Homo sapiens: one gene and its partners. The protein of the gene in region 1 purifies or fractionates together with the protein of each later gene. This does not show direct contact. Each region holds a gene or a part of one and is shown in the gene's direction. Other genes may lie near its edges.

Region 1 (7,583 bases):
GGTTGAGGCGATTCCACCCACCCCGGCCTCCCAAAGTGCTGGGATTACAGGCGTGAGCCACCGTGCCTGGCCATTTTTTTTCTTTCTTTTTTTTTTTTTTTTTGATACGGAGTCTTGCTCTGTCGCCCGGGCTGGCATGCAATGGCATCATCTTGGCTCATTGCAACCTCTGCCTCCCAGGTTCAAGCGATTCTCCTGCCTCAGCCTCCCTAGTAGTTGGGATTACAGGTGCCCGCCAGCATGCCCAGCTAATTTTTTTTATTTTTAGTAGAGACAGGGTCTTATCATTCTTGGTCAGGCTGGTCTCAAACTCCTGACCTCAGGTGACCCACCCGCCTTAGCCTCGCAAAGTGTTGGGATTACAGGCGTGAGCCACCATGTCCGGCCTCATTTAATTCTCATAACACTTTAGGTAGCTTATTTTATTTTATTTTTTTTACACGGAGTTTCACTCTTGTTGGCCAGGCTGGAGTGCAATGGCACAATCTCAGCTCACTGCAACCTCTGCCTCCTGGGTTCAAGCGATTCTTCTGCCTCAGGCTCCCGAGTAGCTGGGATTACAGGTGCCTGCCACCACACCCAGCTAATTTTTGTATTTTTAGTAGAGACAGGGTCTTGCTATGTTGGTTGATCTTGAACTCCTGACCTCGGGTGATCTACCCGCCTCAGCCTCCCAGAGTGCTGGGATTACAGGCGTGAGCCACCGTGCCCAGCCTTGGTAGCTTATTTTTAAATTGCATTTGCTACAATTCTCCTGCCTCAGCCTCCCGAGTAGCTGGGACTACAGGTGCATGTCGCCAGGCCTGGCTAATTTTTTGTATTTTAGTAGAGATGGGGTTTCACTGTGTTGCCCAGGCTTGTCTTGAACTCCTGAGCTCAGGCAGTCTGCCCGCCTCAGCCTCCCAAAGTGCTAGGATTGCAGGTGTGAGCCACCGCACCTGGCCACTACTTTTTGGAACTCTATTTTGTACTTGCTGACTTTCACAAAAAGTTTGAGGCAGCTTACAATAGGATGTAATAGGATGAAAGAAGAAACAACAATATATTAATACGTGGCCAGAATTAGTGTGCTTCAGAGGTTGTAGAAGCCTTATTAACCTTTCTCACGTTTTTCAGGGGAAAGCCTTGCCAGGCAGTTACTACTACTCAATTGAGAAAGATGTGTGCTAAGTCTCAAAAGCAAGTACTTGTTCTCAGTCACATCAGTAGTGAGTAGCACGCTTAAACTGAGAGTTTCTGGTTCTGGGGTGTTTCTGTTTTACTCCAATCAAGAAAGATTCTTCGTTCCTCCATACTCAACAAAATGGAGGGAGACTGGGTACCAAGTTCAGACACAACAATATATTTACTTTTGTTTGTTGTTTTTTAAAATATTTTTTCAGTATACATGTAGCATATCATCTTCTTACAGCAAGACTGTGCAATAGATCATATACTTGCTTTGTAGATGGGAAGGCTGGGACTGCGTGAGGTCACGTAATGCACCCAAAGCCATGTAGCCATTAACTGGTAGAGCCCAAGCTCAGACACTAGAATTAATTCTGTCTGAAACCAAATGCAAGCTTGGTCCATTGTTCTAGACTGTTGCACTTATTCTGTGCTGGCCAGCTGGCATAGGCAGGACAACACTGTAGTGTGGGGACATTATCTTCCCAGTGGCCTAGATGGGAAGGTTAAGTTCAGAAGCTAGTTGGGTCTGATTCCAGAGTTCACCTTGCCAGTCCATTTATTGGTGGATTTCCTTCCAGTGTTTTTTCCCCATCCATAAGCTTGTGGTTTTTCTTTTTTCTTTTTTTTTTCTTTTGAGACGGAGTCTTGCTCTGTCACCCAGGCTTTAGTGCAGTGGCGCGATCTATGCTCACTGCAAGCTCCGCCTCCCGGGTTCACATCATTCTCCTGCCTTAGCGTCCCCAGCAGCTGGGACAACAGGCGCATGCTGCCATGCCCGGCTATTTTTTTTTGTATTTTTAGTAGAGACAGGGTTTCACTGTGTTAGCAAGGATGGTCTCGATCTTCTGACCTCGTGATCCGCCCGCCTCAGCCTCCCAAAGTGTTGGGATTACAGGCGTGAGCCACCACACCCATCTTTTTATTTATTTATTTTTTGAGACAGTCTCACTCTGTCGCCTAGGCTGGAGTGCAGTGGCACGATCTCTGCTCACTGCAAGCTCCACCTCCCAGGTTCACGCCATTCTCCTGCCTCAGCCTCCCGAGTAGCTGGGACTAAAGCCGCCTGCTACCACACCCGGCTAATTTTTTTGTATTTTTAGTAGCGATGGGGTTTCACCATGTTAGCCAGGATGGTCTCGATCTCCTGACCTCGTGATCTGCCCGCCTCAGCCTCCCAAAGTGCTGAGATTACAGGCATGAGCCACTGCACCCGGCCCTGTGGTTTTTCTTAAATAGTTTAAGCTTAACTTTTATTTCTGTAGTTGAAAATTACATTTAAAAAAGCTGTAGTGAGGCCGGGCACGATGGCTCATGCCTGTAACCCCAGCACTTTGGGAGGCCTAGGCGGGTGGATCATGAGGTCAGGAGTTTGAGACCACCCTGGCCAACATGGTGAAATCCCGTCTCTACTAAAAATACAAAAATTAGCCGGGCGTGGTGACAGATGCCTGTAATCCCAGCTACTCAGGAGGCTGAGGCAGAGAATTGCTTGAACCCGTGAGGCGGAGGTTGCAGTGAGCCAAGATGGCACCACTGCACTCCAACCTGTGCAACAGAGTCAGACTCTGTCTAAAAAAAAAGAAAAGAAAAGAAAAGAAAAGCTGTAGTGATCTACATCTGAAACACTTAATGTGTGTTTTTCCATTTAGGGATCAGAATAAATACAAAGATGCAGCTAACCTACTGAATGATGCCTTGGCTATTCGTGAGAAAACTTTGGGCAAAGATCATCCTGCGGTTTGTATATCCAGTTCTTTCATTCTTTTAATATTTTATTTTCCCCATATATTTCTTTTATCCAACTCATTTTACCATTAAACTCAACAGGGAAAGTTTAAGTGCTGCCTTTTCCCTAGATGGTGCAGGTAGGAGGTCTTCACTTACTCAGTGCTAGTGACAGGCCAGAGCACACTTAATTTGTTTATGACCCCACCTCAAATGGATCACCAACTGTATTGTTTGATTGTAAATCAAATTGCATGTCCTTCTAGAAATTTTTTTCTGAAAATTATATTGTCTTCATTAAAATCTGGTCAGATTTGCATATGAATCTGTTTTGGTTGGCTTTGTGGCTTCCAGGGAAATTTTTAAAAAGTCAGGAATACGTTGTTGATTTGTTTAATTTTAGTATTCTGCAGTGTTACTTTGTATAATCTATACTCTAGTGAATTGCGCTTTTCATTTTAACTGAAGTCATATTGTTCTATCCGACTAAGAATGCTTTACTGTATAGATTGAATATAAATGAATATGTGGTGTATAAATGTACTCTTATTTGGTTATCTTTTACCATTCTTAGTGGTTCTCTCTGTGTTGACAGGTGGCGGCGACTTTGAATAACCTTGCAGTCCTTTATGGTAAAAGAGGGAAGTACAAAGAAGCAGAGCCGTTGTGTAAAAGAGCTCTGGAAATCCGAGAAAAGGTACAAAAGAAGGGGGCAGTCGTTTTCTTTGAGATTTTTGTTTTGTGTGTGTGTGGTTTTTTTTTTTTTTTTGAGATGGAGTCTCGTTCTGTCACCGGGCTGGAGTGCGGTGGCGTGATCTCGGCTCACTGCAACCCCCACCTCCATGGTTCAGGTGATTCTTCTGCCTCGGCCTTCCAAGTAGCTGGGACTACAGGGACACACCACCACGTCCACCTAATTTTTGTATTTGTAGTAGAGATGGGGTTTCACCATGTTGGCCAGGATGTTCTCAATCTCTTGACCTCCTGATCCGCCCGCCTTGGCCTCCCAAAGTGCTGGGATTACAGGCTGAGCCACTGTGCCCGGCGCTGTTTTTTGTGTTTTTAAAAATTTTTCGGTTTTAGGTTTTGAGAAATAACCACTGTGATGTGTTTTTAACTGACTATTAGCTGAAAACAACTCATTTAATTAGAGAATAGCCCACAAAACAAAGCCAGATTGGCCCATACAAATCAGTGTTTAAGACTCAATTACAGGCTGGGTGCAGTGGCTCATGCTTGTAATCCCAGCACTTTGGGAGGCCAAGGTGGGAGGATCACTTGAGCCTAGGAAGTTTAAGACCAGCCTGGGTAACATAGTGAGACCTCGTCTCTAAAGAAAAAAAAAAGAAAAGAAGGTCCAGTTATGAGGCGTGTGCATTTAGAAAGGTGCAGTCCTGAGTCTGATGCTGTCCAAGCCTGATATGGCCTAGAAGTGACTCTGATTGAAGAAGACATGTCTGAGGACTAGAGATGGAAAGCCTGGGAGCATTGCATTTGACAGTGGAACATGTGCTTGTCAATAAGAAAAACATGATTAAAGATAAATTCACCAAATATGCTTTATGAAGCTGAAAAATGAAATAATTATTATTATAACTAAAGATTAACTCAGAGCTATAGATTAAGTCAATGTCATATATATTTAATACCAGCTGCTACAGTTCATGGTAATTAGGTATTAAAAAATATAACAACTTGTTCATTTCAGCAGTGCTGTGTATGACAATCTCTTTAGATGTTATGAAGATTCGGGTATTGGGTCTATCCGATGAGTGACCACAAATTGTGTTTTTTTTTTTCTGAAACGGAGTCTTGCTGTGTCGCCCAGGCTGGAGTGCAGTGGCACGATCTCGGCTCACTGCAGCCTTCGCCTCCTGGATTCCAGGAATTCTCTTGCCTCAGCCTCCTGGGTAGCTGGGATTACAGGCATGTGCCACAACACCCGGCTAATTTTTGTATTTTTTAGTAGAGATGGGGTTTCACCATGTTGGCCAGGCTGGCCAAGAACTCCTGACCTTAGGTGATCCATCTGCCTTAGCCTCCCACAGTGCTAGGATTACAGGCATGAGCCACTGCACCCAGCCGCACAAATGGTATTTTAACCTGGTATTTTTTGTGATTATTTATCAGTGATTCTTATCAGTTAATTTTGAGCCACATGGCAAGGAATTGGGGGAGAGAAAATAAAAAGGGGCTCCTTATCAAATTATACAGGTAATATTTTATCATGCTGTCAATCTGCATGATATTTCTGAAATAGAATGGTTGAATTTGGGGTGGGCTGGAGTTAAAGTCAGGGAGAGCACAAAAGTATCAAATTAAGGATTAGGAACCATATAAGATGACCTGCCAAATTCATTCATATATTTACCCTTTCATTCATTTAGAGCCCCCTGCTTAGAGTTGGTGATTTACAGATCAGACATGTAGTTCCTCCCACTAGGACACAGTCCACTGGACAGACTGAGGACCGCAGAGGGCACATCAGCATCTAGAATAGAGAGCTCTGGGAGGATATGAAGTGTGGGCTTCTGCGGGCCAGAGCCAGGGGGTGTTGGGGATGGTTTCTCAGGGAAGGTCGGTGTTGGAACTGCATCTTGAATAATTGAGTTAAAAGTGTCCTAGGCAGGGGGAGGTAGGGAATGCAGAAGGGAGTAGAAAGGCAGCTTACCTCCCTGAGGACCACATGTGTAAAGGCACAAAGCGGAGAGAACTCATCACTTGTTCAAGGTACTGAGGGAGGAGGTTAGTGTTCATTCATCTATCTCTGTGCCAGACCCCTTTTTCGATGCGGAGATTACATTGGTGAAGAAGAGAGACAAAGAATTTATACTCTTGGGGCTTACATTGTAATAAAAAATATTCAAGGTAGTTTAGAGAAGTGATTCTTATAAAGAACAACCAGGTGATGTGCCTGTGAGTTCACTAGGTGAGGTGGGGTGGTATAGGGAAGTCTCCTTTGAGGGGAACTGAGGAGAACCCTGAAGGATAAGTCGTAGCTAGTAGGGAGGGCTAGGAGAAGAGCATCCTGGGCAACTGGGACAGCTGTGGGCTCTTCAGAAGCTGGCAGTAAAACTCACATAGCCTTTACAAAGCCCATTTCCTTATCTTCAAAATGTGCCTAATGTGTACATTTGTACATAGTACAACCAATGTACAAAAATATAACTACCATGAAGGATTACTACAGTAATTAACACAGCTAAAGAAGATGAGCACAGTTCCCTCCCTCCCCTCATGAATAAGAATTTGAGAAATTCTGGTTATTTTATTACTACGTGGTGTAGCGAGCCAGTTAAGGATTTAAATCTGAAAGTGTAGCACAGTCGTGCTTATGTTGAGGAAGATCCTGATGTGACAGTAGGGTGGAGAATGGATTGGATGGAAGCAGAACAAGTGTCTCTAATATGCTGTTTTTTATTTTCAGGTTTTGGGGAAGGATCACCCCGATGTTGCCAAGCAGTTAAATAACTTGGCCTTACTGTGCCAGAACCAGGGCAAGTATGAAGAAGTAGAATATTATTATCAAAGAGCCCTCGAGATCTACCAGACAAAACTGGGACCTGATGACCCCAACGTGGCTAAGACGAAAAATAACCTGGTGTGTTGACTGCACAGCACTAGGGAGGGGGCCAGGAGTGCTTTCGTCCCAAGTCCAAACACTTTCTCATTTAACTGGAGATTAAAATGTATGCTTTATTTACATCTGAAAGATATGAAATATTTTATTTTATTTTATTTTAAGGCATCCTGCTATTTGAAACAAGGAAAGTTCAAGCAAGCAGAAACACTGTACAAAGAGATTCTCACTCGTGCACATGAAAGGGAGTTTGGTTCTGTAGATGGTAAGAAATATACTCCCGTTTCAAGTGAATTTAATTGTATAATGACTTGACTAATAGTAATATACTAATAGTATTAGTTACTGTTTATTAAGCACTTAACTTTGTACATCACTAAGCTAAATAGTTTAAATGTGTGATTTCACTTCACTTTCACAGCAGTCTTGTGCAGCGGGTCAAACATTACCCCATTTTAAAAGCAAGGATACCACAGGCCGGGCGTGGTGGCTCACGCCTGTAATTCCAGCACTTTGGGAGGCCGAGGTGGGTGGATCACGAGGTCAGGCGATCGAGACCATCCTGGCTAACACAGTGAAACCCCGTCTCTACTAAAAATACAAAAACTTAGCCGGGTGTGATGGCGGCCGCCTGTAGTCCCAGCTACTCGGGAGGCTAAGGCAGGAGAATGGCGTGAACCCGGGAGGCGGATCTTGCAGTGAGCCGAGATCGTGCCACTGCACTCCAGCCTGGGCAACAGAGTGAGACTCTGTCTCAAAAAAAAAAAAAGACACCACAGACTAAGTGACTTGTGTGAGGCCCCGTAGCTGAGAAGCAGTTAGACTGGGATTACAGTGCCCAGAGCCCATAACATGTCCTCATTGCAGAGACCTATACAGTTCACGCAGAAATGGAGACAGGAGCATCACCCAAATCCATCTTCATGTCCTCATTGCAGAGACCTACCCAATTCATGCAGAAATGGAAACAGGAGAATCACCCAAATTCATCTTTTCACATTTTTAATGTCTTTCCTTCCTTCTGTGCCTTTGGTTTACAGATTTCAAACCATACCGTCCATATCATCATGTATACTGCTTATTTTCTTTACATTTTTAGTGTGAGTAC
Region 2 (8,458 bases), on another chromosome or scaffold:
CCAAAAGGAGTTTTTCTTGTAGCGATTCTCGAAGTCTTAGTAGGCATTTGAACTGGTCCTTTCACTTTGAGATTCCTTTCCTTTGCTCCTCTGATCAAGTCAGCACACACCTCCTCCAGGGATTTTAAGCTGTGGCTCATAAACAGTGATTCGAATTCAGTGAATTGCCACCTCCGGCTCCAAGGGTGTTTTTCCAGTATCTTTAAAAGCCACAGCTGCTGCGTGGCTTCCTGACCGACTGGTTCCTTGGCGAGAGCAACAGCAGTGAGTCAGGAGCAGGAGCAGAAGCGGGCAGACCACAGCTCGGCACCACTTTCGACGGTGTCTTCCTCAAAGAGCTCTAACTTTTTTTTTTTTTTTTTTTTTTTTTTTTGAGACGGAGTCTCCCTCTGTAGCCCAGGCCGGAGTGCAGTGGCGTGATCTCAGCTCACTGTAACCTTTGCCTCCCAAGTTCAAGCGATTCTCCTGCCTCAGCCTCCCGAGTAGCTGGGATTATAGGCATGCACCACCACACCCGGCTGAAGTATTTTTAGTAAAGATGGGGTTTCACCATGTTGGCCAGGCTGGTCTGGAACTCCTGACCTCAAGTGATCCGCCCACTTTGGCCTTTCAAAATGCTTGGATTACAGGTGTGAGCCACTGCACCCTGCCCAAGAGCTCTAATTTTTAAATAGCTTATTTACAAAGCACTCTATGCTTCAGGTCAAACATTTGTCAAGCATCTGCAATATGCCAAGAACTATACAGATTTCATTACCTAATTTTAAAATTAAATTAAGACCCAGAGAGGTAATAGGATCTATATAAGAATGCTCGAAATAGTGAAAATAGCCCTGTATCTGGAGGTTTAGCTCTGCCACTATCATGATTTCTACTGTACAATATACCCATGCAAGTCACTTTAAATTATTTCATAGGTTAAAGGCCTTTTTACTAAAAAAGAAAGAAAAAATTTTAAATTAAGTCCTTACTCGTGCCAGGACCTGTGCTAAAGTGTGTGTGTGTGTGTGTGTGTGTGTGTGTATATATATAACGTTTCTCATTTAAATCTCCTGAAACCTCTGTAAGATAGGTTCTGTTATTATCCCCATTTTACAGATGGAAACATGAGCTTAGAAATGCTAAGTCACTAGCTAGAAATAATGCAGCTAGTAGGTGACAATTATTTGAATAGAGTCTGACATCAGAGACTGTACTCTTTAAAGCACACACACAGTATTTGGATACTCTTGTATCACAGATAATATAGGGAATTTCAACATGTAAAACAATTCAATTAGTTCACAATTTTAGTCAATTTGGTACATATCATTCACATGCTTATAAACAGAAAATAATAGGAAAAATCAGTCAACAAACACCTGGGGAGAGAGGGAAAAGGCAACTTCATTTCTCTTTTGATAGGATTCTAAATACCACAAATAGGAGAAAACAGCCAAATCAAAAGTTAGGAAATCTGTAACTTCAACCTTCATAAAGCGTAAAGTGTGTCTTTAAGAAGCAAAGATTTAGGGAAGTGCCATTTGGGCACCTCTCACTCTCAAAAATGAGAGAGCTGTTCTCCTTTTTCTTTTTTTTTTTTTTTGCGACAGAGTCTCATTCTGTCACCTAGGCTGGAGTGCAGTGGTGCGATCTTGGCTCACTGCAACCTCCGCCTCCCGGGTTCAAGTGATTCTCCTGACTCAGCCTCCTGAGTAGCTGGGATTACAGGCGCATGCCACCATGCCCGGCTAATTTTTGCATTTTTAGTACAGACAGGGTTTCACCATTCTGATCAGGCTGGTCTCAAACTTCTGACCTTGTGACCCACCTGCCTCGGCCTCCCAAAGTGCTGGGATTACAGGTGTGAGACACCGAGCCCGGCCCTGTTCTCCTTTTTCTTTCTTTTGCCTATTAAACCTCTGCTCTTAAAACGCACCTCCCCCTCTGGCCCTGCCCCCCCCCAAAAAAAGAGGCAAAGATTTAAAAAGTTAACAGGAAAAGACTACTTTATCACATTTAGCTTGAATGCTAAGTAGTAACATTTACTAAGGTCCACAGTTTACTGCTTACTACACAGTTTACCACTTTACTACACAATAACCCACCCTGGACTGATGGCTTCTTCAGGAACACTGAGAGAATGTAAAATACAGGAATCCTGATAATTCTGCATTCTTCGAGCAATCATTATAATCAAGCTGATGTTTTTATCCGTCATCATTGTGTATAGTTCCTTTGTTGTAATTGCTCCTTTCTCTTTGGTCTCACATTTTTTCACTCTTTTCACCATTGCTCTTTTGGGTTTTGTCTTTGGAATCCAATACATTCTCCAAAGAAACTTTAGCCAATGTGCCACCATCCTCTCTTCCTGTTTCCTGCCTTTTTTGTTGTAGTTGCTGTGCTTCCTTCTGCCTGTCCTTTTCCTCAAGTTATTTCCGGACTTCAGCTTCTTTATATCTTAGTTTAAGGCTCTCAGAGAGTCTTTCAGCTTCTTCAATGGCTTTTTTGATGTTTGCAGTTCCAAGTATTGAATGGACGTAATCCTCTTAGTGCTTATTTTCTCTGGTTTAACTTCTGTCTTCTTATTGAGGTCTTTTAGTGAAGAACTCAGGTAGAGTTCTTTAGGAACTAAAGCCACAGCAGGCATGGTGAATTATCTTTACTTTTCCACGTTCACGATAGATGCTATATTTCCTTAAAAGTAGTTTTTTCCGTGGCGTCGGGTGCGCTTCACTAACACCAGCCTTCTTGCCAAAGGCCCATCTCCCAAGAACTCGAGGGAGAATTAGCCTTGGCTACCAAGATGGAATCCAGCCCAGCTCATCATCCTTTGCCCATTTTTAAAATTTTTTTTTGGTTGTGAGTTATAGGTATTCTTTATATATTCTGTATATTAACTCCTTATCAGATGTATTATTTGCAAATTTTTTCCCATTTCATGAGCTGCCTTCTCACTCTGTTCATAGCATCCTTTGATGTGCAAAAGTTTTAATTTTGATGTAGTTAAATTTATCTGTTTTTTCTTCTGTTACCTATCTTTTTTTTTTTTTTCCCTGAGATGGAGACTCACTCTGTCGCCCAGGTTGGAGTGCAGAGGCACAATCCTGGCTCACTGCAATCTCTGCCTCCTGGGTTCAAGCGATTCTTCTGCCTCAGTCGCCAGATTAGCTGGAATTACAGGCACGTGCCACCATGCCTGGCTAATTTTTGTATTCTTAGTAGAGACCAGGTTTCACCAGGTTGGTCAGGCTGGTCTCAAACTCCTGACCTCAAGTGATCCACCCATCTCAGCCTCCCAAAGTGCTGGGATTAACATGCGTGAGCCACGGCGCCCGGCCTGTTACCTATCTTTTGGTGTCCCTTTTCAATTGTTTTGAATCCTACTTAGCCCATTTCCTATATTAAGCCTTCTCAGACAACACTGAGAACTTCATCCTCTGTACTCCCACTAGTTTCTAAGCTGCCTGAGGGCGATGACTTATTTTGCAACCTCCCTTCAAATGAGAGGCCCTACGTTATCTCCCTTGAAAAGGGTTCACTTAATAAATCTAAGTTTACAGAGTGACAGCAAATGCCATTTGCTCAGTTAATAGCTGATGAATGAACAGATGAACGAATGAATGATGACTGAACACAGTGACACACAGATACGTCTCTGTCCACTTGAGATAATCCTGACCTCCTCAGATAAACCAGTGTATGCAAGGTTCTGGGCATCTTCTGGTGGGCTCAGGGAAACTGAGAATTGGATTGTCCTCTCTAGTATATTATGAAGTTGATCATTTAAGATGATGGGTCTCTGAGCCAGAGCCTGAGAATTACTTAATTTAAAAACAGATGAGAAGGTGGCACCTGGGTCTTTTTAATCTACTTCCACTGCACATGAGGAGATGAAATAGAACTGGTACTACTTACAAGGGTTTATAAAAGTTGATTTTAGTAGGTCTGTCCTCTCAGCTAGGCAGAGAACACTTGTATTTTCAGGTATTACCCGAATTTAAGCAACAGATGTGTTCCTAAAATTAACTAACTTATTTGTTTTATGATCATTTGTTCAGCACCCAATAACATCTAACTTTCAAGAGCTTATCCTATATACATGTCAGGCACCGTGCTAGGTGCTTTAAAAGCATCTGTCTTTTAATTCCCCCAGAAATCACAAGATGATATTATTCCAATGACAGAGATGAGGAAACTGAGTCTTAAGGAAATTAAGACTTCTTAATTTCCTCCGCTCTTAATTTCCTCCGCCTGTTGGTCATACATCTAATAAGTGGCTGAGGTGGGATTCACACTCATGCATTGCTTCTTCCTAGGGTAGAATCCTTATTCAGTATGCTGCCCACTATGTGCTAGATGCTACAGACACAAAGATATCAAGCAGATATCACCACCCAAGTGCAGTGCTAGAGACAGGCACAGCAGATTAGGGGAACATCAAGGAGGGCCACCAACTCTTTATAGGTGTTTAGTGAGCTGGGAAAGTCTGAGGAAGGAGGGTTGAGCTAGGTCTTAGAGGAAAAGGAAGTTCTGGAAAAATAGAGTGGACACTCAGTTGTTCTGCCAGCCCGGCACCATGTCTGGGAATACCATCCCTCTTCTTTTGGGAACCTTCCCACCAAGGGATTCCTCCATAATCTTACAAAATCCCTGATTCTGGTTGATTGGTTTAGCACTAGATGCCAACCTAAACCAAGGCCAATCAAACCCAAACTCTGAACAGACATCCATCCTTATCTAGTGGTAGAAGTTGAAGGATGAAACCCAGGGGCTATTGGGAGCTGTTTCCCAAGTGATTTTCTTTTGGGATCAGGATGATCCAGACCCAGTTATCTAGAGATTTTAACCGGAAATATTGGATATGACCTCCATCCGGTTCCGGCTTGGGCAGCCAGACCGGACTTGCAGGCTCTTGGAGGTCGCATCCTGTCCTTCCCCCGGCAGGTAGAGTGACTACAAGTCCCGGGATGCGCAGCGCTCGGAGTCGGGCGGGGGCCGGGCGGACCTCTACGGTGACGTCACCGTCCCGGGGCGGGCCAGGGGAGGGCGGGGCGGAGGGGCGGGTCTCAAGGCGGCAGAGCGCGCTGGTGCTGATGCAGGATGGCTGAGCGCGCAGGAGCCCGGGAGGTCTGAGCCGGGCGAGGCTCGCTCCCTGCGCATCGCCTCCTCCGCCCGCCGCGTGGTCGCGGGCAGGTGGGCCGGGGGGCGCTGGGCAGGGGCGGGGCAGGGCCAGGGCAGGCCGGTCTGCAGCCGGAGGGGCCGGAGCGGAGAAGCTGCCCACCTTCCCGGGCTCGGAGCGGCCGGGGCTGCTCAGCCGGCCGGGCTCGCGATGACCTGCTGAGAAGCGTCGTCGGAGGCTGCAGGAGGCGGCCTAGCTGTGGGCGGTGCAGCTCGCGGCCTCCTCCCTCGTCGTTCCCGGCCCCGGCCCCCCACCCATCCCCGTGCCCCCTCCCTACCGCCGGCCGAGATGGCGGATCCAGCCGAATGCAGCATCAAAGTGATGTGCCGGTTCCGGCCCCTCAACGAAGCGGAGATCCTCCGCGGGGACAAATTCATCCCCAAATTTAAAGGCGATGAGACCGTGGTGATCGGGGTAAGTGGCTGGGGCGTCTGCCTTCCCTGCTGCTCCGCGCCGCAGCTGGGCGCCCCGACGCCCCAGACGCAGCGGAGGTGTTTAGGCCGCCCCCTCGGACATTCCCGCGGGGCTGGCCTCTCGGGTGGACCTGACCAGAGACCCCTCGCCCCGCGCACTATGGTTCCCTCCCGGGCGGGTGGAGAGGCGGCCGGGAGCGGCGGGCCGGGCGGGGGTGGCGGGGGTGGGGATGGGGGGCGAAGACGGGCTCGGCGCCGCCATTGTTCGCCGGGTGGGGGCCCGGGTGGGCCCATTGTTCCCCACGCTCGCCTCGCCGCGTGGGTAGTGTGTTCGGGTGACCCTCAAGCCGGGTGCCCAGGCCCCCTTTAAAGTGTGAGCTCTGCAACCCGCAAATGCTTCTGGGCATCAATCAATTCGATTTACCAAACGCCTTGCCTCTTCTTCTCACGACCCTAGCAAAAAAGAAAGAAAAAGGGGTACAGGAAAATTTCTAGTCGCGTCTCGGAGCTCCCGCGGCAGTGTAGACGCGGCTCCCCGCGGTGTTACACCTGGCTCCGCGCGCGGAAGGCGGAGGGTTGGGGGAGTACTGGTGGCCTCGGTGTCCCCTGGAGGCCTGGTGTGTCTCCCGCTTCCTCTCACGCCTGGCTGCCCTGGATGTGGAGTCCCGGCTTGATCCCTCCCCTCTGGGATGACCTCCCTCCCATGTCTGCAGACCCTCTGATGCGCCTCACGCTGGGTGGAGAGGAGGCTGTGTCCACATCTGTGGGGCGAGGGGGCTCAGAGCGCAGTAGCCCCCTGTGCCAAGAGCAGAAGTTACTTCGTGCGGCTCGGACCCCCCTCCCTCTCTATCTCCCTTCCCCACCTTTTCTCCCCCACCCCCTCCCCCTACTTAGCTCCCTCTCTGCAGCTGGGGCTGCTGGTAGGGGGAGGGAACACCAATGGATTGTAGTTCTTAAAGGAATCTGTCAGATGAAACAAACCAGCTCGGTCCCCCGCCCCTTCCCCGCCCGCTGTCCGTAGCGTGTGTGGCTGATGGTGCCCCCTTTGTATGCGAGCCGCGTGGGGAGGGACCGAGTTAATGGGAGCCTCCCGGTCCCCGCTGACACGTTCCTGGCAGCCTGCTCCAGGCTGCTGATGCAGCCTTCCCGTCCCCAGCATTGATTAAGTGATGTCATCCTGATCACTGAGCATGCTCCGACTAACCCCCTCCTCCCCTTCCTCCAGTGGCTGGTGTATTTAGGTCAAGTGATTGACAGGTGACAGTTTACCGAGGGTATTGCAGGAGTCCGCCTGGCCTTTCTCAAGCGCCAGAGGCCGACGTTTTCCAGCCCGGGCGGTCCCCAGCATCTTTGCCAAGGTTGTCTGCCGCAGTCGCAGCGAAGGGCCCTGGGGACCAGCAGGTGCCAGCTGTACCGTAAGGCGGGAGCTCTCCACGCTAGAGGAGCCTGGGCAAGGCTCTGGCCTCAGGGCTTTAACCTGTACCTGGCTTTAAAAGGCTGCTCCCTTTGACGACCTCTTCTCACCTCCCCATTTTCACAGTCATCAGGAACGTCTGACCTCCAAACGCTGTGTGGATGGGCGATCATTCTGCGAGCTGACCTATGAGGGCAGGAAAGCGGGGTTTTCTCTCTGTTTAGTGTTAAACTTGCAGAGAAGATATAAGCTACGATTATTGATGAGGAAGGAAATTCTGCAGTTAATGGCAGATAAGTGTTAGTGACATATACATAGGCAGTACCTGGGGCAGTTAGTGACTTATTTGGTTTACAGCTCTCAGCCAGTATCTGCCTACAGCCTGATCTGCTACTTTCTGAGCCAGGCTGTGGTTTAGATAGAGTGGGAGTTACTGGGGACATCTAGTCCCTGCCCCTTGGCTTGTAACAATTTTTAAACAAATAATTGTGCAGTACTGGAACATGTTCTGGCAACCCTATTTTTTTCCCAGAGGTTTTGAAGAGCCTGAAGAAGTTTTTCTTCTCCCCTCCTCCCTCCTCCCCCATCCCCTTTCCCCTCTCCCCTCTCCCTTCTCCTCCTCTTCTTCTTCCAGAACCAATGAAATGAAGTAATAAATCATCTTCCTTGACCTGTATGCAAGGCAGAGCTCCTTAATTTTAGAATTATCCTTCTTTAATATGACATTGCTATGAGTATATATTTCCTTATCTAAATAAACATATATTAGTGGCTAAACAAATTAAAACCAAGTCACCATATTAAATAAGAAGTTTAAATAAAAATCATAGATGTGAATATACACATTGCTTTTCAACCGTAAAGTAAGTTTTGCTCATCCTACTATAATCCTTTAATACAACAGTTTTCAGTTTTTCTAAGGTAAACTTTTTATTGAAATGAAGCATTCATATAGAAAACTGTTATCATAAGTATACAGTTGGATGACTTTTCATAAAGTAAATGCTCCCTGTAACCACCTCACAGACTAAGAAACAGACATTTTGGGACCCTAGAAATCCCCCTTGTGGCCCTTCCAGTCCCTAAATCCCCCTGCTTCAGGGTAACCATGATTCTCACTTCTGATGCTATTAGTTTTGCTTGTTTCTTTTTAACTTTATATTACATAAAACCATAGAGTATGTTCTCTTTTGTGTGTGGTTTCTTGGGATTAAGTGTTATGCTTGTCAAATTCATCCTCATTGTTTTGTAGTATTCCATGATATGAATATACTACAATTTGTCTACTGACTGTTGATGGATATTTGGATAGTTTCCGGTTTGGGGCTAATATGGCTAGTGCTGCTATGAACATTCGTTTATGTATATTTTGGTGAGTGCATGTACAGAATAGAAGACTGCCAGATACTGAAGGGTTTGGGAGTTGGGTTGGCATGTGCCAGGATCCTTCCCATTCCTAATTGATAATGT
Region 3 (7,583 bases), on another chromosome or scaffold:
GAAACCCCGTCTCTACTAAAAATACAAAAATTAGCCGGGCGTGTTGGCTCATGCCTGTAATCCCAGCTACTCTGGAGGCTGAGGCAAGAGAATCGCTTGAACCTGGGAGGTGGAGGTTGCAGTGAGCTGAGATTCTTGACACTGCACTCCAGCCTGGGCAGAGCGAGACTCCATCTCAAAAGAAAATAATAATAATAAAAATAAATAAATAAATACAAACTTAAAAAACAAAGCTTATGGGTCACTGTCCATTTGTCCCCCACAGGGTTGTACTGAACGCTTTGTGTCCAGCCCGGAGGAGATTCTGGATGTGATTGATGAAGGGAAATCAAATCGTCATGTGGCTGTCACCAGTGAGTGAGGATACAAGGGGATCTCTCGAGTCTGAGGATCCACTTGTGTTCTGTGTCCTCTGGGGTGGAGGGACTCAAAAGTGAGCAAGGAAACTGTACCCCCCAGAGGAGGAGGACCCCTTGTCTGTGGGACCCTGCTGCCTGGGAGATGTGGCAGCAGGGCTAGTCCTGGTGGGCACCTTCTCTCTGGGTGGGCGGGGCTGGGGTCAGTGGAAGCCGGGGGCTGAGGACCTCAGTTCTGCAGGGTGGTGCAGGTCCTGTTTCTCCCTTGCTCCTGCAGACATGAATGAACACAGCTCTCGGAGCCACAGCATCTTCCTCATCAACATCAAGCAGGAGAACATGGAAACGGAGCAGAAGCTCAGTGGGAAGCTGTATCTGGTGGACCTGGCAGGGAGTGAGAAGGTAGGGGGTCCTGTGGATATGGGGTGGGTGGAAGCCTTGGCTCTTTTTTTTTTTTTTTTTGAGACAGAGTCTCACTCTGTCGCCCGGGCTGGTTTGCAGTGGCACGATCTCTGTTCACTGCAACCTCCGCCTCCTGGGTTTAAGTGATTCTCCTGCCTAAACCTTCCAAGTAGCTGGGATTACAGGTGCCCACCACCACGCCTGGCTAATTTTTTGTATTTTTAGTAGAGAGGGGATTTCACTGTGTTGGCCAGGCTGGTCCTTGGCTCTTTTTTTTTTTTTGAGACGGATTCTTGCTCTGTCACCCAGGTTGGAGTGCAGTGGCACGCTCTCAGCTCACTGCAACCCCTGCCTCCCAGGTTCAAGTGATTTTCCTGCCTCAGCCTCCCTAGTAGCTGGGATTACAGGCTCCCGCCACCAAGCCCAGCTAATTTTTGTATTTTTAGTAGAGACGGGGTTTCACCATGTTGGCCAGGCTGGTCTCGAACTCCTGACCTCGGGATCCACCTGCCTCGGCCTCCCAAAGTGCTGGGACTACAGGCATGAGCCACTGTGCCCGGCCGACTCTTTTTTAACTAAAAAATGATTTGCATTGGGATATAATTCACATACCATAAAGTTCACCATTTTAAAGTGCAATTCAGTTGTTTGTAGTATGTTCCCAAGGTTGTGCAACCATTACGCTATCCAATTCTAGAGCACTGTCATCTTCTATTCACAGTCACTCTCCATTGTCCCCTAACCCCATCCCCTGTCAACTTCTAATCTACTTTCTGTCTCTATGGATTTGCCTATCCTGAACATTTCATATAAATGGAATCATATGGCTGGGCACGGTGGCTCACACCTGTAATCCCAGCACTTTGCGAGGCCGAGGTGGGTGGATCACCTGAGGTCGGGAGTTCGAGACCAGCCTGGCCAACATAGAGAAACCCCATCTCTACAAAAAATGCAAAATTAGCTGGGCGTGGTGGCACATGCCTGTAATCCCAGCTGCTCAGGAGGCTGAGGCAGGATAACCGCTTGAACCTGGGAGGCGGAGGTTGTGGTGAGCTGAGATCGCACCATTGCACTCCAGCCTGCGCAACAAGAGTGAAACTCCATCTCAAAAAAAAAAAAAGGAATCATGTAATATGTGGCAGGGGTTAGGGGCAATGTGGTGTTTGACAAGACAGTTTAGGGGAACAGAGGAAGGGCCTTCCCCAATCCCAGCCAAGCATCTCTGTTACTCCATCTTCTTCCCTGTTCCTTCCTTCCTCCGTGGACTGAGCCCTGGAACGAGGTGGTGACAGCCCTCTCCATGTGCAGCTGCTCATACACACTCATCTCTTACTGCCCTGGTAGGTCAGCAAGACTGGAGCAGAGGGAGCCGTGCTGGACGAGGCAAAGAATATCAACAAGTCACTGTCAGCTCTGGGCAATGTGATCTCCGCACTGGCTGAGGGCACTGTGAGTGATCCTTAGGTCCCCTCACCCCTCAAGCCACACCCCATCTCCTCCCCCACCTGCTAATGCCACCATATGATCATGCCCCAATTCATGGGTTGTCTGATCCCGGGGTGGCACCACTATCCTTTCTGATTCCCTGTTGAATTTTATTTGTTTATTTCTGATTCCTGGTCTCCTTCCTCCCCCAGAAAAGCTATGTTCCATATCGTGACAGCAAAATGACAAGGATTCTCCAGGACTCTCTCGGGGGAAACTGCCGGACGACTATGTTCATCTGTTGCTCACCATCCAGTTATAATGATGCAGAGACCAAGTCCACCCTGATGTTTGGGCAGCGGTCAGTGGCAGGGTCCCCAGAGGGATCCCTGGTACCCAGCTTCCCATCCCAGCCTCTGCGGCTCTCTCTCCTCAGGGTCACCCAAGTCTCATGTTGCTCTCATTTCTTTGTTCCTCTTCTCCTCACCCAGGGCAAAGACCATTAAGAACACTGCCTCAGTAAATTTGGAGTTGACTGCTGAGCAGTGGAAGAAGAAATATGAGAAGGAGAAGGAGAAGACAAAGGCCCAGAAGGAGACGATTGCGAAGCTGGAGGCTGAGCTGAGCCGGTGGCGCAATGGTTAGAGAGGGATAGGTGGGAGTGAGGGGCAGTGGGAAGAGGAGGAGGATGTTTGGGAGCCAACTCTGTTTGGGTGGTGTTTCTGGCCAGGCCAATCTCCTAGAAGAGGGGCTGTGTTTCTGGACAGGTGCAGTAGAGCAGTCATGGGGGAAGGGAGGGGCCTGACTACCTACCTCCCATACTCCCAAAAGGTAGAGGGTCCACCTGGCAAGAGAGTTCAAGGGGCATGGTGAGTGAGAAGGAAGAACTCGTGGATGCAGCTTCTTCTTCTTCCATCTCTCACCTCGTCTTGCCCCTTTGCAGGAGAGAATGTGCCTGAGACAGAGCGCCTGGCTGGGGAGGAGGCAGCCCTGGGAGCCGAGCTCTGTGAGGAGACCCCTGTGAATGACAACTCATCCATCGTGGTGCGCATCGCGCCCGAGGAGCGGCAGAAATACGAGGAGGAGATCCGCCGTCTCTATAAGCAGCTTGACGACAAGGTGAGGGCGGCCAGGCAGGGCACTGAGGCACGCCAGGTGGGATGAGAGGTAGACGATCAAAGAAAATCGCTTATATTGCCTCTTTCTGGTTTTAAAAGGGATAAATGCTTATGCTTGAAATGTGGAAACATCAATATAAATGTATGTAAGAAAATTAAAATCATCCACTATTCAGAGATAACACTCAACATTTTGCTTTTCTCTGTGCATATACCATGCAATTGAGTTATACTGTATAAGTAATTTTTTTTTTTGAGACAGGGTCTTGCTGTGTCGCCCAGGCTAGAGTGCAGAGGCACGATTGTGGTTCACTGCAACCTCTGCCTCTCGGGTTCAAGTGATTCTCCTGCCTCAGCCTCCAGAGTAGCTGGGATTACAGGCGCATGCCACCACGCCTGGCTAATTTTTGTATTTTTGGTAGAAACGGGGTTTCACCATGTTGGCTAGGCTGACCTCTGGCGATCCGCCCGCCTCGGCCCCCTGAAGTGCTTGGATTACAGGCGTGAGCCACCGTGCCCGGCCTGTATATGTAATTATACATCTGATTTTTTTCATTCAGCATTATATTATGCACAATTTCCTACTTCATTAATAATTCTTCATAAAAGTATTTTTATTTTCATTTATTATTATTATTTTGCTTTGAGAGAAAGAGTCTTGCTTTGTTACTCGGGCTGAAGTGCAGTGGTGCAGTAATAGCTCACTGCAACCTCAAACTCCTGGGCTCGAGGGATCCCCCCCAACCTCAGCCTCTGAAAGAGCTGGGACTACAGGTGCACACCACCACGCCCAGCTAATTTTTTTTTTTTTTTTTTTTTGGTAGAGTTGGAGTCTCACTTTGTTGCCCAGGCTGGTCTCAAACTCCTGGCCTCAAGCGATCCTCCCGCCTTGGCCTTTCAATGCGCTGGGATTAAAGGCATGCACCACCAGGCTAGCTAATATTTTAAATTTTTTGTAGAGACAGGGTCTCACTATGTTGCCCAGGTTGGCCTTGAACTCCTGGCTTCAACCGATCTTCCTGTAGGATATGGGGTTTCTAACTCAAAGCTTATACTATCTGGATTTTTATCAGGATCCTGCCTCTACCCCCAAACTTCTTACGTCTAAACTGGAAGGAGTAGCTTCCCTTCACCTGTCTTTCCCTGTTGCCTCCAACAGGATGATGAAATCAACCAACAAAGCCAACTCATAGAGAAGCTCAAGCAGCAAATGCTGGACCAGGAAGAGGTAATAGGAGGGAGGGCAGGACATGAGAGGAAAGGGGTTCTGTTCATCACTGGAAGGCATGGAATAGACCTTTTTAAAATCAGATGGAAGAAGGCGCTTTCTGCTTGGGGATTAATCACTCCCCTAAACAGCAGAAGTCTGGGAACCTCACTGGGGCTTTTCTTTTCTTTTCCTTTTTTCTTTTCTTTTTTTTTTTTAGAGATGGAGTCTCAATTTGTTACCTAGGCTGGAATGCAGTGGGGCAATCTCAGCTCACTGCAGCCTCGATCTTCCAGGGTCAAGCAGTCCTCCTGCCTCAGCCCCCTAAGTAGCTGGGACTACAAGTGCACCACCACACATGGCTAATTTTTGTAGAGATGGAGTTTTGCCATGTTACCCAGGCTGGTCTCGAACTCCTGAGCTCAGGCAATGTGCCCACCTAGGCCTCCCAAAGTGCTGGGATTACAGGCGTGAGCCACTGCGCCCGGCTGGGGCTTTTCTTAAAGCACAAATTTTAAAGTCTGGGGGCTTCTTCATTCTTCATTCTGTTGCCCTATTTCTATGAAACCTAAAGCCCACTTCCTCTTAACTCTTTATTTTGGGTAGGGTGGGGGCTCAGCTTCCCAGACCCAAGGCCATAGAAATGGTCACTGGCAGTGATCTTTCCCACATGCCACTCCTCTCCCTTGAAGCTGCTGGTGTCCACCCGAGGAGACAACGAGAAGGTCCAGCGGGAGCTGAGCCACCTGCAATCAGAGAACGATGCCGCTAAGGATGAGGTGAAGGAAGTGCTGCAGGCCCTGGAGGAGCTGGCTGTGAACTATGACCAGAAGTCCCAGGAGGTGGAGGAGAAGAGCCAGCAGAACCAGCTTCTGGTGGATGAGCTGTCTCAGAAGGTGGTAAGTGGTGTGCCAATGGTCCAACAGCTCCCTGACCACAGAACATCTCCCATGTCGAGGGGACCTCTGCATCCTTCCAGGGCTGTATGGTGGCTGCACCTCTGCACTGCTGTTCAGTGCATTGTGAGTCCCTCCCCAACCCTGTCACTGCACTTTCCCCTCACAGTCCCTCTGTCTTTCAGACTCTTCTGCAGGGCCTGTGTTCTCTTCATAGCAGCCCTCAGGGTCTTGCATGAAGGGAGAGGCCTCTGCCTGGGCTGGGCAAGGGAGCAGGAGGATGGCAACAGGAATGACCTGAGGGGCTGTCCCCAGGCCACCATGCTGTCCCTGGAGTCTGAGTTGCAGCGGCTACAGGAGGTCAGTGGACACCAGCGAAAACGAATTGCTGAGGTGCTGAACGGGCTGATGAAGGATCTGAGCGAGTTCAGTGTCATTGTGGGCAACGGGGAGATTAAGCTGGTGAGTGGTGAGAGACAGCAGCCTTGTTCAGGCTGGGCACTAGTGGAAGACGCAAGATGAGCCATCCAGGCCTTCACAGATACTGAGAAAGGCAGCCAGAGAGCCAGGAAACATGCCTTTGAACTAGACCCAGGAAGACAGGTAGAGGCTTGTATAGACCCAATTGAAAAGATACATTCTAGGTTGGGCGCAGTGGCTCACCGCTGTAATCCCAGCACTTTGGGAGGCCGAGGCAGGCGGATCACTTGAGGTCAGGAGTTCGAGACCTGACCTCGCCAACATGGCGAAACCCTGTCTCTACTAAAAATACAAAAATTAGCCAGGCGTGGTGATGTGCACCTGTAATTCCAGCTACTCAGGAGACTGAGGCAGGAGAATCGCTTCAACCTGGGAGGTAGAGGTTGCAGTGAACTGAGATCACACCACTGCACTCTAGCCTGGGTTATAGAGTGAGACTCTGCCTTAAAAACAAAACAAAACAAAACTAAATTCTAACGGGTGCTGAATAAAGAAGCAATGGAGGCCAGGCATGGTGGTTCATGCCTGTAATCCCAACATTTTGGGAGGCTGAGACAGGCGGATCGCTTGAGCCCAGGAGTTCACGACCAGCCTGGGTGACATAGTGAAACCCTATCTCTACAAAAAATACAAACGATTAGCTGGGGGTGGTGGCACACACCTATAGTACCAGCTACTTGACAGGCTGAGGTGGGAGAATCACCTGAGTATGGGAGGTTGAGGCTGCAGTGAGACATGATTGAGCTACTGCAATCCAGCCTGGGTGACAGAGCCAGACCTTGTCTTAAAAAAAAAAAAAAAGAGGCTGTACATGGTGGCTCACGCCTGTAATCCCAGCACTTTGGGAGGACGAGGCGGGTGGATCACCTGAGGTCAGGAGTTCGAGACCAGCCTGTTCAACATGGAGAAACTCCGTGTCTACTAAAAATATAAAATTAGCCGGGTGTGGTGGCTCATGCCTGTAATCCCAGCTACTCACGTGGCTGAGGCAGGGGAATCGCTTGAACCTGGAGGCGGAGGTTGCAGTGAGCCGAGATTGCACCATTGCACTCCAGCCTGGGCAACAAGAGTGAAACTCCGTCTCAAAAAAAAAAAAAAAAAAATTTGGGAGGCCGAGGCGAGGTCAGGAGATTGAGACCATCCTGGCTAACACAGTGAAACCCTGTCTCTACTAAAAAAATACAAAAAATTAGCCAGGCATGGTGGCGGGCGCCTGTAGTCCCAGCTACTCAGGAGGCTGAGGCAGGAGAATGGCGTGAACCTGGGAGGCGGAGCTTGCAGTGAGCAGAGATGCGGCACTGCACTCCAGCCTGGGTGACAGAGGGAGACTCTGTCTCAAAAAAAAAAAAAAAAAGCAGCAGCAACAGAGCAGTGCTTGCAGTAGGAGTTAGAGGTGGGGCATAGGCACAGAGTTCAGAATGAAATATGCAAATCTGTGGATGTGAGAATAATCTGGGTGATCAAGGAGATCAAAAGAAAATCATGTTGCTTTATAAGATTTATTTGTAAGTGGGGGACTGTCAGAATTGGATTTTTTTTTTTTTTTGAGATGGAGTCTTGCTCTGTTGCCCAGGCTGGAGTGCAGTGGTGTGATCTCAGCTCACTGCAACCTCCGCCTCCCAGGTTCAAGCAATTCTTCTGCTTCAGCCTCCCGAGTAGCTGGGACTACAGGCACACACCACCTCTCCTGGCTAATTTT

What was found. The genes of interacting proteins can lie anywhere in the genome.
Region 2: the proteins of KLC1 (region 1) and KIF5C purify together in Homo sapiens (co-immunoprecipitation; 5 studies listed by BioGRID and IntAct, with this or other methods). This does not show direct contact.
Region 3: the proteins of KLC1 (region 1) and KIF5A purify together in Homo sapiens (co-immunoprecipitation; 8 studies listed by BioGRID and IntAct, with this or other methods). This does not show direct contact.

The regions. Positions count from the first base shown.
Region 1 is NC_000014.9:103,666,692-103,674,274, forward strand, and holds part of KLC1 (kinesin light chain 1), read left to right. Parts: intron 1-2,819; coding exon 2,820-2,907; intron 2,908-3,490; coding exon 3,491-3,592; intron 3,593-6,322; coding exon 6,323-6,496; intron 6,497-6,640; coding exon 6,641-6,740; intron 6,741-7,583. UniProt on the Homo sapiens protein: Kinesin is a microtubule-associated force-producing protein that may play a role in organelle transport. The light chain may function in coupling of cargo to the heavy chain or in the modulation of its ATPase activity.
Region 2 is NC_000002.12:148,870,169-148,878,626, forward strand, and holds the start of KIF5C (kinesin heavy chain), read left to right. Parts: upstream 1-5,058; 5' UTR 5,059-5,449; coding exon 5,450-5,575; exon of another isoform or gene 5,576-6,027; intron 6,028-6,843; exon of another isoform or gene 6,844-7,174; intron 7,175-8,458. UniProt on the Homo sapiens protein: Microtubule-associated force-producing protein that may play a role in organelle transport. Has ATPase activity. Involved in synaptic transmission. Mediates dendritic trafficking of mRNAs.
Region 3 is NC_000012.12:57,566,861-57,574,443, forward strand, and holds part of KIF5A (kinesin heavy chain isoform 5A), read left to right. Parts: intron 1-265; coding exon 266-353; intron 354-633; coding exon 634-758; intron 759-2,102; coding exon 2,103-2,207; intron 2,208-2,395; coding exon 2,396-2,544; intron 2,545-2,674; coding exon 2,675-2,823; intron 2,824-3,126; coding exon 3,127-3,302; intron 3,303-4,460; coding exon 4,461-4,529; intron 4,530-5,200; coding exon 5,201-5,407; intron 5,408-5,719; coding exon 5,720-5,866; intron 5,867-7,583. UniProt on the Homo sapiens protein: Microtubule-dependent motor required for slow axonal transport of neurofilament proteins (NFH, NFM and NFL). Can induce formation of neurite-like membrane protrusions in non-neuronal cells in a ZFYVE27-dependent manner.